2 separate regions of the Homo sapiens genome follow, and region 1 is linked to region 2. A link means that fine-mapping ties the variant in region 2 to the expression of a gene that starts in the linked region. Tissue or cell type: whole blood. Region 2 holds a variant in brackets; the other region holds the start of a gene. All regions are shown on one strand. Distances are from middle to middle.

Region 1 (8,181 bases), 48 kb before region 2:
TGGCTAAGCTCCAGCCCACAGCCTGGATGCACCCTTCCATGAGCAGTTCTAATACGCCCCTTCTTCAGCATATCTTACTGACCATTCTGCTAGACCTCTGTCCTCTCTCTGAATCAGGCAAAGCCAGATGCTGTGTCACCTAATTAGGTGACTGTTCCTTAGCTGCTTCACTCTCAGAGCCATGAAGGTGGTGAGAGTCATAGGGAGCCATCATGGTACCTGACAAACCTGGGCAGGGGCATCACAGCATCGCCAAGGGCACATCCTGGGAGCCACAACATTCATAACTAAGCAATCCCAGGAGGCCTGCTAACCCTATGAGTGTCCCTGAAGGGCAGAATCTTCCAGGGCTCTGAAGGATCCCCCAGTCTGAGCAGGTATGAGGTCAGTTGACCTCTGGGCTGTGATTCCCTAACCACTTTTCAAGTAGTCCTGCAGCCTTGGGGCAAAACCCAGGAGTGTCCTATCCCTTTACTTCCATTCCCCACCCCACAGAGGCAGCCACTTTCAACATTTGTCATTGGTTCTTTTGGTATTACTTCTATGTTTCCAGATAGTATTTATTTATTACCACTTCTTGATTTTTTCCTTTTAAGTGTTATTTATTAACTTCTTACTATAGAAGATGAAGATTTTGTTTCTTTTACACCCTTTCCCCCCACCATCCATAAGCACCCACTCCACCCTCCCAATTAGTTATATTAAAATTTTGGTTAGATTAACAACAGAATTTCCATTATTAGCACCGTTTAATTGCTAGTCCCACTTGAGGTATGTTATATATGATAATAATTTTTCTTTCATGAATCACTTTTGTTTTCTGTGGAGTTCATAATTGCCTTGTTTTTTATTTGCTTAGTTTTCTGCTAGGTATCAATAATCCAACCTCAAACATTCTATGAGTTGTCTAGATCTAATCTCCATGTGTTTAGATGCACCTTCTTAAAAATATCATTGCATTTTATCACTGAAATAATCTACAGCTCTCATGGAGATGTACAGGGCCAGGTGCAGAGGTCTTCAGATAGTGTTGGGTTAGAGAGAAGGCAGAGGCCTTAGCATTGGACAGACAAATTTAGATCCCACATTTATTGGCTGGGCGACCATGATTCTTCTACATCTGTCAAAATGGTAACAATGATATCACATTATAGTGTAGTCATGAGAATTAAATGAGGTACAACAAAAGTGCCTGGAGCATGGGTGCACAATAAATGTTGGTTTACTTTCTTGTGGGACAATCACAAGAATAAGGCCATTGAAGGTACTTCATCATATTAATAGAGCTTTCTCTCCCCACCCCCAAAGTATTGACCAGGCTCTGAACATTCATCAAGGCTCCTGAGACATTGACACTCCTGCTACAGGAGATGGTTAAAGCTCCTATAACTTGGCCCATCAGTCTGATGATTTCCTTTAAAAGAAGGAGCCTCCTTAATAGCATCAACAATTTTATTTTGAAATATTGCAAACAAAGACAGAAATTCTAAAAGGAAAATATATACGAGTTAAAAACAGGTACATCTAGAAAAAAAACCCACTCTAATATAAAAATAAAGGGCAAGCAACAAATTGGGAAAATATTTGCAACATATGAGTCAGTGAAAGATGAGGCCAAATTTCCTAAGTACCGGGCCAGCTTGGGTAGAGACAGTGCTCCAGCCACCCAGGCAAATGCTTTCTCCTCTATCCAGCTATTCATCCACTCACTCAAAAAACACAGGTTGAGTGTCCACCAGGTACCTGGCATTGGGGGTATAATGATGTCCCCGAACAGAAATGGTTCCTGCTTTCACGAAGCTCATGGAGCAATGCAAGTGACAGATATTCACCAATCAGTCACACTCAGGAGTATACAACTGCAACCTATGGTAAATACCATAAAGAAAAGGAGAGATGGAGCAGAGGATCCAGCCTGGACTGGGGTGTGTGGGAAGACTTCCCTGGCTGGCAACACTTGAACTATACTATAACTGGAGGGTGAATAGGAATTAAGGTGTGTGTGTATGTTTGTATGCATGAACGCATGTGCACACACATACAGGCATGCATGTGCGCACATGTGAATGTGGGAGGCATTTCAGGGGAAAGAACGATGTGCAAAAGCCCTATGGTGGAAGCCTCATGGAACACTGAGGACTGGAAGAGGGCTGTATGGCTGGCCTATACGCACTAGATGCCAGTAGCACCCCTCAGTTGGAATAACCAAAAATACTCCAAACAATGCCAAATGTTCTCTAGTGGGGCAAATTGCTCCTGGTTGAGAACCATTGACTTAAAACAAACATTTATGAGAAATCCTGGATTTCAAAGACAGGCTGCCTGTAAGCCCCTTTGCTGAAGCACTGGTCTCTTACTAGCACTGTCCAATAGAAATATAAAAAATATAATATGAGTCACATATGTACTTGTAAATGTTCTAGTAGCTATAGTAAAAGAATGTAAAACAGGTAAAATTAGTTTTAATAATAGATTTTATTTAACCCAATATATCCAAAATACTGTCATTTCAGTAAAATAATTATTAATGAGATATTGTACATTCTTTTTTTGTACTAAATCATCAAAATTTGGTGTGTCTTTTTCTCAATTTGGACTAGTGACATGCCAAGTGCTTAGTAGCCACATGTGGCCAGTGGCCAGCTCATTACACAGGAGTGGGAGGGTGGAACTAAGCTCTCGCAGAGGTATCTGGCTTGTCCTATCCCTTGGGTCATCACTAGACTTGCCCCCTCCTCAGCAGAGCCATGCAAGTTCCTCCTTTGCCCATTGGGGTACACAGGGTTCAGCCCATGCGAAAGCACCCCACAGAGGGGTCCTGACGTCTGTGGAACACACTGGAAGGCTGGTCCCATCCAGGAAAATCATCCAAGTGCTTGCAGTGTGCTAATAAGATGGGTGTGTTCCCTGTGAATCCACAGGAGGCTGGAGGCCCCCCGCTGCAAACACCTGGTGAGACACAAACTGTTTCCAAGCTCCCAGGCAAATGCTCCATCCACCTCCAAAGACCCATCCTCCACTTCATTGTTTACAAAAGGAGCTCAGCCCTCCCAGATACTGGCCACCTGAAAAGACACATTCTATTTTTGTAAAAGACAGATGTTCTCATTCAAAATGACACTTTCCGTGGCTAAGAAGTTGTTGTCCATGGAGATGCTGTCTCTAGCCCCATACAGTGGCCAAGTCTTCAGGTCACTGTGCTGGGTCGCTGGCTGGACACAGGCTGGCTAGCCCAGTCCTGGACTCTCCTGACCCCCATCTCTTGCTGGTCTGAGTCTGCTCCCGCATCCACCCGTCCTGCCCCCAGACCCTGCAGCTTTCTGAGTGTTCTGGCAGGAAAGCCTGCCTGCCCCTGGCCTGCTTGAGGAAATACTGTCTGCAAAGCAGCGGGAACGAAGACCCTCGCTTGCACCCAGCTGTCTCTAGAAGCCAGGGCATGGCCTTCCCTGGTAAGGGGTGCTTCTGTGTTGGCCACAGGGCAAATCTTGGGCATTTCCTTTTTAGTAAAGAAGCAAAGTTTCCTTAAAGTTGCCACCAGGTCACCTGGAGCGACCGAGGGCCTCTGTAAAATGTGGAATGTGGGGCGAAGTGTGCACACCCACTGGGGCACTAAGCCGGCCACCGCCCTTTTGCAACTTCAGGTCGTGTCCCCACCCAGCCCAGGAGTTTCACGAGGAAGGGCACTTCCTCAGGAGGATGCTCACTATTCAGCGGCAATGGTCCCAGAACGCCCGCCCCATGTGACACATGGCGTGACGGCTGGCCAAGTGTCCGCGCACGTTTGCCAAGAGGCACATGCGGTGCCCAGAGAAACCCCAGAAAGTTGGACTTACCCCTCCTGGCCTGCCTGATCTTTGGGCTCAGCATGTTCTTGCAGCCGTCCGGCCAGCCCCGCAGGGCCGTTCATGCTGTCATCCACTTGCTTTTGCTCGTCCTCGCGCCTAGTCGCCCCTCATGTCCTGCTCGTTCGGGGCCCCGTGGCCGCTGGCGTCACCCGTCAGGCTCCCTCGGCTACCTCTCCTGGCTCCGGACGGACGGCTCGCCTTGGACTACATAAACCTCGATGCATTATTTATCCATCCCAGAATTAATTCCCATCCAAGCGGACCATTAAAGCCTCAGTAATCACTGCTGATCAATCACTGGACCAGGGCGGGGCAGTCCCTCCGCCTGGCCTGGGCGCACGCGTGGCTGTCCAAGCTGAGCGCGGGGGCGGGGCGGGGCCGAGAGGGGCGGGGCCAGCCAGAGACGCGGGGCGCGGTCCTGGCCCGGGAGAGGGTACTGGGGTTCCGGCCATCCTTTGCTGAGGCTGGAAGAAATGCGCCTTTCAGCCGCCGCCTGGGAGCCGCACTCCCTGCCAAGCCCGGGTGGGATAGCGCTTTGGTGAGAAGGTAGCCGAGACCCCCCCCCCACCCCAGAGCCCAATCCACGGGGACCCGCTTATGAGCTCACTGTTTTACGTGTTGAAAGTCAGGTGTGTCTGGGAAGGAGCAAGCAGCCCGGCAATGTAAACTCCTCAGGAGACTCCCAACAGGAAGATGCCTGTTAGGGATACTATTTATGCCTCTTTAGTAAGGTGACAGGAATAAGAGGGCAGGAAGCACTTAACTCAGGGCTCTTCATAGGAAGATCTGAATTGAATAGTGAATCTCTGCTAATTGCCATGTTTCTGTTTGATGCTGGCATAATTTTAAAGGGTGTATACTGGGGCTTTGTGAGGAGCGGAATCCAGCCTCAAGATGCTAAAAATTACCCAAGGAATGCAATCATAACAATAGCTATCATTTATTAGGCACCTACTATGTGTCAGGCACTGAGGCTGGTGCTTTACATTCAATATCTCATTTAACTCTCAAACTCCTGAAGCAGGTGCTATATATATAGCGTTTCAAATCTGGAAAATAAGGCACAGCAAGGTTGAATCACCTGCCCAAAGTCATACAGTACCGAGCAGCAGGGCGGGCACCAGAACCCAGGGCTGTGTCTACAGCTCCTGCTGCTCTGTGATGCCAGCCTCTCCACCCTATTCCCATCACTGCATGGTAACAGCTCCTGGCTTGAGCCCCCGATGAACTTGCTGAACGGTGACCTGCCTCTGTGCCCCTGATAATCACTCCGTGTATCCTCTTAGGCATCTGAGCTTGGGTCTGGCTATTTGGGCCTGAGAACTGTGTGACCCTTTCAGTAGCTGGTAAAGAGGGATTTGAACAATGCCCTCCCCTGCTCAGATGGCCATAGCCTCCATCTGACCCTCCACACTCCCTCGAGTGCCCCATGTCCACAGATCCCCAAGTGTCCTATTGGTATGTAATCAACTTTAGCAGCTGTAGAGGGAGAGAGCCCACCAGGAGATCACTGTGGCAGTCCTCCCTAGGGAACAGTGTGCCCTATGGAGAGGGGAGGACTGCAGAGTAAGAAGAAAGACTCACCAGGATGTGGTGAGCCACATGGCCAAGCTGGTGGGAGAAGGTAGAGTCCATGGACACAAAGCTGTCTTACTCAGCATCAAGTCACTTGTTCTGGTCTTCAGCTACTCCTCAGAGGGATGAATGAGTACCTTGGCATAACATTCCAGGTTCTTTCATGGTAGCATCCATGGACTCCTCTCTGACCTATCTCTTGCCGATGCTCTATACAACCATATGCACATACAGCGCCTGCTCCTGTGTGCCCCAGTGACTTTGCACATGCCTTGCTCCTGTGTGTTCCTGTTCTTGCATGTGCAGCCCCTGCTCTCCTGTGCCTCTGTGTTTTTGCACATGTAGCTGTGTCTTTGCACGTGCAGTTCCCTCTCTCTGGAATGCCCTTCCTCACATTGCCTTGTCCTCTTTGGGCAATTCCCCAATGAAATTCTCCTGATTCCACCAGCAGAATGAGCCACTAAGCACTTCCCCTGGGCCCTTATCTATGTCCCTGTACTGCCCCTCTTGTACGCCCTCCCTGAGCCCCAGGCTGACTCAGGCCAGAAGCCTCACAGGAAACTCTGGCTTCATGGGCAGATCCAAGAAACACCACTGAATGACAGAACTGACCTCCTTTTCCTTTAAGGCCAGGTACAAGCCCTGGTTGGGACAGGGGCCACCCATGAGGAGTGGGGAGAATATCAAGCTAGAAAATCTCATGTCGACACCAGGGTCACAGGGCAAGTCCTGTGGCTTGTGACAATGTCTTGAGCAATCAGGAAGCCATTTGTGAGTAATGCAGCCTGGACCACTTCATCCAAGTCAGAGGCAAGGAAATGCCCTGAGACTTAGTCTGGGTCCACTCACGCTTGTTTTGGTTAAGAAACCACCCCCAGGCGCTTTTCCTGTGCAGCTGTTTTCCCTGATGATATTAAGTCACTGTGTTCACTCGCCTGCTTTTCTGGGGATCAGAGCTGGGCTCACACCCCAGAAGTCAGGCTGGGAAAAGGGCAGGAGTTGATCTACGTTCTGCGTCTGAGAAGGCTGGGGGAATGGGGCAGGTGGGCAAAGTAGCTCTTTTCTCCTCTCCAACCTCAGACTGTGCTCTCAGTACTTCCTGAGATGAAGGGTCCACAGAGGCAGGAATTGGAGCCCCTTCATCCTGAAGTTTACCAGCCCTGATCTGCAGGGCCCTGGGAGCCTCCCACTTCCTCTGGGGTGGCCTGTGGGAGGATGGAGTGGGGACAAGGGCAGGGCAAGGGGATCTGTTGAACATGTGACCTCCTATAAGCTTTTATTTGAAGAACCAGCCCTACTCTTCTCACTTATAAGTGGGACACCCAGACCAAGGAGTGGGAGATACAGGTCTAGCTTAGCAGCGGAGACAGATGCCTCCTTCTCCACTGCCCTGTGCCTGCCTGCACGGTGCTGCCCCTTTCCAGCAGTGGTCCTAGGTCTGCCTTCACCTGGCTTCCTGCCTTGAATCATTCAGTATTTTCTAAGGGCTGTTCAGGGACAGAAGCTGAGCACTGAATGGACAGAAGTCTCCGGAAGGCAGAAGGCATCTATTGAAATGCACACCTGTTGGTGGGATGGCTGCCAATCAGCATCAACTGGCCCAGAGCCAGGATACCTTCAAAACAGTAGTTCCTAACCTTGGCTGCACATTAGGGAGCTCTGACAGTGAATTCCTGTGTCCCACCCCCAGTGGCTCTGATTTAACTAGTCTGCAGTGTTTATTGTCATTGGGAGTTGTAAAAGCTCCTCTAGGGATTCAGCCAGGGTTGAGAACCACAGCTTTAGAAGACAACTGCACATGGGGTGTTTGCTGGCTGCCATCCTAAGGGAGATTCTTCTCAGGGAGAGGCACATCTGCGAATAAATCTCCTGGTCAGAAAGTGGAAAGGGCATCTGTCCCAAGCCCCAACTTGAGACAACTCCACCCAGAGCCACAGGTGCTGTTGGATGGTCTGTGCACTGCTCAAAGGTGTCCAGTAGAGGGAGGTAAGGAGGCTGAATTTGGGCTCCATTGGCAAAGCCCTGTGTTCCAGCACAGGGAGGTGGGGAGGTGTGCAGCTAGAGGAGGGAGCTTTCCTCTAATTTGCACAAAGGCGACATATAGATAGCAAAGCCCTGCTTCCCCTGTTCCAGAAGCTGCATGGAGGACCAGAGTAAGCCCTTCTGGAGGCAGAGGAGAGAAACAATGCTACTCTGGCTTTGTGATGCCTGCCCAGGGGTCACCAGCACCTGGGTCCCCAGCCTGCCTGCTTAGTGCACTCTCTGTTCCTGCTGCCAGGAGGTCGATGCCGCAGCTCCCTTGCATGTCACTCAAGGTCTTCATGGGCAGCTCCCACCCTCATACTTTGGTTTCTCCTTCTGTCTATCCCAGTAGTGGGCCGGACCAGCTGGAGAGTACCAATGACATAACTGATTGTTAAATTTTCAGGAGTTTTGTAAGCCAGTTGTTTAGCAAGAACATCATTAGAAATTAATGTATATAAACTTATAATTAAATAAACTATTTAAGACAAAGGTAACAAGCACTAAAAACTCATAATTTCCAAATCATTTTACTACATTTTATTATTCTTCAGGTAATTGACATCTATTGTTTCTACATGGTGGATAATATATACTGGGTTGCTGCCATGCATCTCTTCTCAACTCTAATGTTCAATGACATCATGCTGGTAGTTTGAAATTGAATGTTGTGGGAGTATTTACACCAAGAAAACTAGCAAATGCAGTAAATCAGAGCTTAGATGTCTTGTTTTGTTTT
Region 2 (8,181 bases):
TCTCTAAGTCCCCTATTCTCTCAGGACACAGTCATGCCCCCCTACCTGGGTTCTCACAATCCCCTTACATCTCTGCCAGCAGTGGGGGAGAGAGTCTGCTCTGGGAAAGGCCAAGGTGAGGACAACCACAGAGTCAGGGAGGCGTGGGAGAGGGTTTCGAAGGAGCCTCCCTACCCCAGGCTGCTCCCAGCCTTGGTCCCAGCGTGCAGGTCAGGGATTTGGGGACTTGAAGGAGTGGTTGGATTCAGAGATGCCTTCTCCTTCTCTTTGGACACTCTGGCTGGGTATGGGCAGAGGCCACCGTCTTTCTCTCCACTGTGATCCCGAGGCACAGTGGCTTCTTGGCATGGGGAGTGCCAGGAGGGTCAGACAGGGAGAAGCCAGCAGTCTTGGGAGACAACCAGGCAGACCAGTGGTCTGAAGTTTGGGAGCTGGTGAGAAAAGAGGCTGCAGCTAGTCCTGCTGGCAGGAGAGTTCCCTAGGAGGAGCTGAGGCCCACAGTGATGGAGCTGAGGGTGCTGCCCACTGCTGGGTGAGACTTTTAGCACAGAACTCACCAAGTGAGAGGCCAAGAGGCTCACCACCAGCTCCTGCTGGAGGGAAAGTGCTGGTAGGTTCTCGATGTGGCAAGATTGTGGACAAAGTGAAGAAATGAAGCATAGCAGTACAATTGAACGCATAAGGACCTTTCATTTGCCCTCAATCCTTGAAAATGACAGTTAAAAGCAAACTTAAGTTTCTCAATAATCTCCATTAGCTGAGAAAGACGGAGGGAGGGAGGGAGGGAGAGAGAGAGAAAGAGAGAGAGAGAGGGAGAGAGAGAGAGAGACCAGGAGGTGGCAGGTGGAGAGAAGAAAGATAAACACACAGAGGTGCTAACCGAGAGACCAAGGATGGGGAGGGGAAGCCCCCTCCCCCTGTGCTGGAGACTCTTTTTTTTTTTTTTTTTTTTTTCTGCAGCCTTTCACGAAATGGCATTGCCAGTCCATTTTTAGAGTTGTCAAAGTGTTTGAGATTAGGTAATCATTTACAAATTAATCCAGTCTCAAAAGGAATGAATGTGGATGAAACTTGGAAAAATTATGCTAAGTGAAAGAAGCCAGACACGAGGCTTCATAAAAGGATACATATTGCATGAGTCCATTTACATGACAAATCCAGAGTTGGAAAATCCATGGAGGCAGAACACAGATTGATGTTTGCATGGGGTGGAGAAGAGGGAGCAACCTCTTAATAGGTACAAGGTGATGGAAAAATTTTGGAATTAAATGGAGCTGGTGGTTGCACAACATCATGAATGTATGAATTGCCACTGACTTTTACACTTCAAAATGGTTAAATTCATGTTATATACATTTCATCTTGATAAAGACATTAATTCAATCAAATTCATTAAGTTCAGGTATGTCATGCAGTATGTCCTCTGTCCCTTTCTCAAAGGATTTGCACCTATGCTATGAATCTGGGGAAGAATTTATTTCATCATAGAAATCTGGTGGCTGGAACCTCCTACAAAAGCAAGTGACTGTTCCTTCCAAGCCAGATAATGCAATAAACCTAGCACAGGGAAAATAATACCTGGAGATATTAGGTATTAGGCTTGAACAGTTAAAGGTTAATCTCAGCTGCTCCCCCACCCCCTATTTTCTCCTGTGGAAAGTGAGATCCAGGGAAGTTGACAGTGTGAGAAGTGTCTGCAGCACGAGGCCGGCCCAGGGGTCCTGGCTTCTAGCCCACTCCGTTCTTCATGAACACAGAGCTTTACTCCTCACCCCATGAATATCTACTCAGACCACAGAAAAGGGGCTCTGTGGAGTCTGAGCCCACCCTGGGCTTGGTCCACTATATCCTGAACCTGGTAGCATATTACATTACATCACATCACCTGGGACTTTAAAAATATGCTGATATCTTGGATTCATCCAAGACCAATTAAACCTGCATCTCTGGAGGGGGAGCCTGGGAATTTTTAAAAGCACCTTGGGTGATTTTAATGTGGAGGTTGAGGTCCATGACTGCATTTCACCCACTAGCTTCTAGAATTTCCAATCTTTACCAGTCCTGGAGGGGCTCAGGCAACATCATCTCATAACTGAGCCCATCAGGTCATGCATATGACCTGACTAGCAACTGCCAACCATCACCTACACAGCCCATGCAGCCCAGCACCTGCACAACCCATCCAATCATCACCTGCATAGTCCACCCAGCCAGCACCTGCACAATCCACCCAGTCAGCACCTGCACAACAAGCCGAATCCTCACCTGCACAGCTCACCCAGTCAGCACCTGCACAATCCACCCAATCATCACCTGCATAGTCTACCCAGCCAGCACCTGCACAACCCACCCAATCAGCACCTGTACAACCCATCCAAATCATCACTTACACAGCCCACCCAACCATCACCTGCACAATCCACCCAATCCTCACCTGCACAGCCCACCCAGCGAGCACCTGCCTGTGACCCAAACAAACAGTCATCCCACTTGGTCTAACAATTATCTCCCAGGCACTTTACTGAGGGACCCAAACAGACAGTCACAGCCATCCCATTTGGTCTAATAGTTACCTCCCAGACACTTTAGTGAGGGTTACTGAGATGTCCTCACTATTTCTCTACTAGCCCCTTGGCTGGATCCTTTCCAAGCAGAGATGCAGAGTAGCCTTCAGCTGCACACAGCGTTCCCCTGTGAAGGACTTGCCTACTGCCCCAGCGGTCCTTGGACATAGGAGTCCTTACAGACTCTGAATGCAATCAGAGCCCTGAGTCATTAGAGCCCAGGACCCTGAAGTCTCTGTTTTTCAGGCAGACACAGAGCAGCTGCCATAGTTCAGGGGTGGGGTTTGTGCCATCAGCCATTTCCAGGAGCTGAAGGAGGTCAGAACCCTGACCACAGATGCCGCCTGGTGCTCTCAGCCACAAGACCAAGACAGCCTCCGGGGACCCCATCCCTCAAGCAAGAAGTCAAATGCAAAGGTAATCATTTCCCACATAGAACATAAAAAAATTCTTACTGAAATATCTGGCTGCAAACGTCCTCCTTTTGCTGGAAGCTGTCGGCAGCATAATGAAGCTGGCAGTCTGTGCAAATTTCTTCTGTATCCTTTTTATAAAGAACCAACCACATCCTCAAGCAGACAAGCTAATTCCTGTTTTCCAGTAACAGGAGATCCACATCTATAGAAAAGAAATATATTTAGAATGCCCTTTATCTGGTATTTTCTTGGATTTTAAGCAAGAAGCCTCGCTGTGAAGAATTAGTTCATTAAGCGTAAGTGCATCTAGGGATCTTGGAATGGCCTTGAGAAAGTCACGGGGTCTTGGGGTATCAGTTCCTCAAATCTGTAAAATGGGAACAATAGTGACAACCACTTCACAGAACAAAGAATTGAGAAGTGGAAAGAAGGGGCTTTGTGAGCAAAGCCCTCAGCACACATCGGATGCTATATTTGATTTTTTTTCCATGAGCTGACCTGGATTCAAGGGGAGCTGGGTTTCCAGAAAGCCTTAGAAATAAGTACAAACAACACTGCAAATTTGCAGTGACTTCCAGGATGCATTTATGGCCTTTGTCTGGTGGGCACAGCAGTCCTGTTAGTGGGGAGAGCAAGTCCCACAGAGGGACAGTCAAGGCCCAGGAGCACCCCATGTGAGACCCTCACCAGGCACACAGGCTGCTCATGGCATGGCTTCTCCATTCCATTTCTGGAAATTTAGCATCATTACAGCATAATTTACAGTTGTGGAGAATCAAAAAGAAAAATCCCAATTATGAAACAGCCAAGCGATATTTATGCAGCCATCAGCATCATTGACATAGTGGTCCTGGCAGTCCAAGGCAAAGGCAGGCTCCAAGGCGGTGGATACAATGTTATCTAAATGAGGGCAGCATTGATTCAGATGGAGCAGTGACTCCTGGGAGGGCATGCATCAGGATTTTCTTCCTAGCACCCTCCTTGTCTCCTCTGTTCTATTGAGCTTGCATCACATTTATTGATAGTGACCTGAAACACCTTTCAATTGCAGAGAGCATAAAAGCAGTTAAAAACCAATCACTGCTATAAAGATAAAACAAGCATAGCCAGTGCTCAGTGGCTCAGTGCAGGCTAGATCCTTCCTACACCTGGGCTTGTGGGTGCAGGAATTGGGGCTGTCACCACTGCAGGAAGGTGCACCCTGGGCTGCGGGACAGCGCTTAGTGGGGTGTGTTGGGGGAATGTCATCTTGGCCCATGCCTTGGGGATCTGTGGACAGTTCCTGCTGCTAATGTTCTCAGAAGGGAGCGCTGGAACAGCACAGAGAACGGGGCCAA[A/C]CTGAGCCTCTGGGGAGTGACCAGGGATAGCTGGAAGCAGAAGGAGGCAGCAGGCGAGCACTCAACTGCTTGAAGAGAGCAGCAAGGGCCAAAACCCAAGGTGCCAGCATGTCCTTGCAACAAAGCAAGCAGTAATTTGGGTTGCAAAGGCCAGAGTGCAAGGCTGATAAGAGCCCACAGGTACAGAGGCAGAGAGGAGTGAGAGGAAGCAGCCCATCCCACGACCTGGTGTACAGGGGGCTTTGGAACTAAAACTCTAGGACAAAGTCCAGGTTTTCCATTTTCGAGTGCTTGGAATTTAGACATGGGCTAGATTTGGCAAATAAAGGTGTAGGATGCCCAGTTAGTTTTGCAGTGTAACTGTGTTCTAAATATTGCGTGGGACATAATACCTGCTAAAAAGGTATGTATAGTTGACCTGAAACACTATTCAGATTTAACTGGGTATCCTGTATTTTATCTGGCAAACGTATACCTTCTGAATATCCATTTTCTCTTTGATCAAAAAAGAAAATACCACCAGGTAAGAAACTTTCAATTGCAGACAATAAGAAAGTCAGTTAAAAAGAGGGGATTTATTGGCTCCTTGAGCAGGAAAGCCCTCATAATATGGACTTCAGGCATGGCTGGATCCAGCAGCTTGACAATGTTAACCAAGTCTGGGTTTTTTTTTCCAGTTCTCCTGTTTGCTTCTGGAATGCCTGCTTCATTCTCAACAAAGTCCCCTCATTATTAAAAAATGCTGGACACCAGCTCGCTTCAGGAACTAATACTCTTTCTTTCATGACCAACACAAAGAAAGAGCCTATCTTCCAGTGTCTCTCTCAGAAGTGCTGGGAAGCTGCCCCTCCCTACTCTCCCAAACATCTCTTCTTGCCTCATGGCCTTGGTTGGTCCACTCACCCATCCCTGAACCACCCAAACCAATGCAATGTGCTGATTGGCTAAAGCCAACCTGGTCTCATCCCAGGAATAGGGTGGCTTGGCTTCGTAAAAGCCACCTCAGCTGGTATGGAAAAGAGGTGGTTGCTAGAGTGGATGCCAGGCACTGCAACCAAGGTTGGGGAGAAGGGGTTCAAAATACAGTGCCCACAGTGAGGTTGCCCTAAGGATAAGATACATGAGACTGCCCCGCTGGTGTGGTGTGTGTGTTTAAGTGTGTGCTGTATGAGAGGAGAGAGAGGGAGAGAGAGACAGAGGGAGAGGGGGAATGTTAGTTCCTCTCCTTGGACATGCTGATTACTTTCTTTCTTTCTTTCTTTCTTTCTTTCTTTCTTTCTTTCTTTCTTTCTTTCTTCCTTCCTTCCTTCCTCTCTCTTTTCTTTCTCTTTCTTTCCTTCTTTCTTTCTTTCTCTTTCTTTTCTCTCCTCCCTTCCTCCCTTTCTCCCTTTCTCTCTGTTTCTCTCTCTCTTTCTTTCTCTCTTTCTCCTTCCTTCCTTCCTTCCATCCTTCCTCCCTTCCTCTCTCTCTTTCTTTCTCTTTCTTTCTTTCTTTCTTTCATTCTTTCTTTCTTTCTTTCTTTCTCCTTCCTTCCCTCCTTCTCTTCTCTTCTCTTCTCTTCTCTTCTCTTCTCTTCTCTTCTCTTTCCTCTTGGCCAGCTCGGTGACTCAATCTCCTTCCTGTCTCAGGCCCCTCCCACGAACTGGCCCGTGTGTGCCCGGGGAAGGTCCCTTCTCCTCACTGACCTCCACCCACACCATGGAGAGTGGATGTGTGTGTGTGTGTGGGGGGGGGGGGGGGCGGGGGACGCTGCATCAGGAGACCTCTGGTTAGGGAATTTTTATCAGGAACCACCTCTGTGACCTTTACCAACCTCAGCCTATAGTGGGGACAAGGTCCTACAGCGTGGGCCTCTCCTTTGGAAGGCTTTGGGACAGAGTTCTGCCCACCAGCTGGAGGACAGTGACCTCAGGGGGAGAAGGGACAGGAGACTGCTCTCCAGTCCCTCACCCCAGCCCTCGCCTTTCCCTCACCCACCTTTCTTTGCAGCAAGTTCAAAGGCAGGTCATACACCAGCTAAGCGGGCACAGCTGGGCACAGTTCCCGGGGCCTGCCGGGCAGCGCTGGGAAGGGCGGCAGAGAGCGCGGACTGGACGCTCGTCTTGGAATGACTCAGCCAGGAGCAGCCGCCAGCAGCATGGGCCACGCAGCAAACGGGCGCGCCGTGGGAGCTGGAGAGGCCAGGTCTTCTGGAACCAGGCCAGTGCACCCTGCCCGGGCGTCACCCCACCACGGACATTCACAATGACAGTCAGCACTTCTCAGCACACTGTGGATCACACGCATTAGCCTGGCACCTGGCAGCGCCCCGAGGTGGGCATCACGGTGGGATTGGGAGGCACTCCAGTCACAGGGTTCACCAGGGCCGAGGTGGCGACGAAAACCCGTCCCTCGGGCGTGGCAGTGGCCTGGCCACGTGCGCCCCAGGGCTTGCACCCGCATCTCCCGCCGGTGGTAAGCGGGGCCTCCAGCAGAGCGGGCGGGGCTGCTCACCTGGAACCAGGGCCAGCCGTCTCCTCCCCTGCCTCGGCCGCCCGGGGCCTGCCTGGGGCTCCTTCCTCGCCGCCCGGCGGCAGCTCTTGAGCTCCCGGCCCGCTCCTTTAGCCCCGCAGGCTCCCTGGCCGTGACCCTGTCCCCGGCCTCCGTGTGATGAGCAGGCGAGCAGGGCCGGGGGGATGCAGCCTGGGCCCCGCATCCTCAGGCAGGACGGAGCTCCCGGCTGCTCGGCGCCTCTGGGGGGGGGGGGGCGGGGGGGGGGGATGCGGCGCAGCGGGCGGTCCCAGCGAGTCAGAAGGGTGCAGCAGCCGGGTCGGGGATGGCCGGGCGAGGCTGACCCCTGCCGGGCAGCGCGGGTGGCGCCACGGGCGGAGGCGACTTCCTGGGCCCTGGTGCACGGCGCCCCCTGGCGGGCCTCGGGGAGGCGGCCTCCTGCGTGCCCGGACCGCTCGCTGCGCCTTCCCGCCTGGCTTCCGGTTACCCAACCTCATCTCGCCCGAGCCTCATCTGTAGCTCACCGTCCTGTGCGCCCTGTGCTGTTGGCAGGGCGTGTGGGATTTAGAGGGTTTTCTATACTGAGTCTTCCTCGGAGCAGGTGAATTCTGCATAGCTGGCCCAGTTCTGTGTCTTAAGTATGGGGAGAGAGTGGGGGCTGGAGAAATCACTAGCAGGGGAGGAGCCCTGAGGTTGCCGAGGGGGATCGGAGCTACTTCCCAAGGCGCCTACACCGCCCGTAGACTGGGAAACTACGGTCACAAAGGGTCAGCGCATTCCCCAAGGTCCCAGAGCCACACGCAGCATGGCTGGCATTTGAAAGTCAAAGCAGAGGAAGCAGGCAGGTGGCTCTTGTTGAACTGGCTTCCAGAGTCTGTGTTGGGCAGAGAGATCCTTCCCCGAGAGTGGAGTGGCCTCGTGCTCACCTGGGTTCAGCGTCAAGGTTCACCTGGAATCACCTGCACTCTTGTCCTTGACCAAGGCAGGGTGGTTAGCCATGGGCTGATAGCCTTGGAGAGCCTGATTCAGCCTTTGGGTAGAGCTGGGTCAGTCCAGCCTCAGGGCCATCACTCACCCGAAGCATTGTGGTAACCTGCCTGCCCCTGGAGACCCCGGGTGTGGGGCAGGGTGACCGTGGTGGAGAGTGGGAGCTGGCAGAGGTAAGGAGGCACACGTCTGCCACAGCACCAGAGCTCAGGGCGCCTGAGAAGCAAGGTCATAGCGTCCTGTTCTTGGACCCCGTCAGTCTCCACAGCTATAGGGGGCTCCATTGAAAAGAGTGTGCCAGACCTTCTCTGTCTGTGCCCTGGTGAGGGCTCACTCACTCTCCAGGCTTGCTGGGGGAGGAGGCACGAACTTCGGTGGAAAGAACAG

What was found. PIP is the estimated chance that this variant, and not a neighbour inherited with it, causes the effect.
Region 1: it holds the start of ARHGAP22, and the variant in region 2 is fine-mapped to the expression of ARHGAP22 in whole blood (TOPMed, PIP above 0.99). The same link has a PIP of 0.9 or more in blood mononuclear cells and monocytes.

Annotation. Positions count from the first base shown.
Region 1 is chr10:48,600,930-48,609,110 of GRCh38, forward strand. It overlaps ARHGAP22 (Rho GTPase activating protein 22), which reads right to left and starts at 4,144. Exons shown (of 10, transcript NM_021226.4): 1 at 3,834-4,144. The coding sequence starts at 3,867. RefSeq lists enhancers at 3,565-4,295, 7,262-7,321 and a silencer at 4,152-4,311.
Region 2 is chr10:48,649,215-48,657,395 of GRCh38, forward strand. It overlaps a transcript of ARHGAP22 not described here. Among named protein-coding and RNA genes, the nearest start is that of WDFY4, 32 kb to the right of the region's middle. RefSeq lists a silencer at 6,752-7,341 and an enhancer at 7,592-7,661. The variant A/C (reference allele first, on the strand shown) is at 4,318.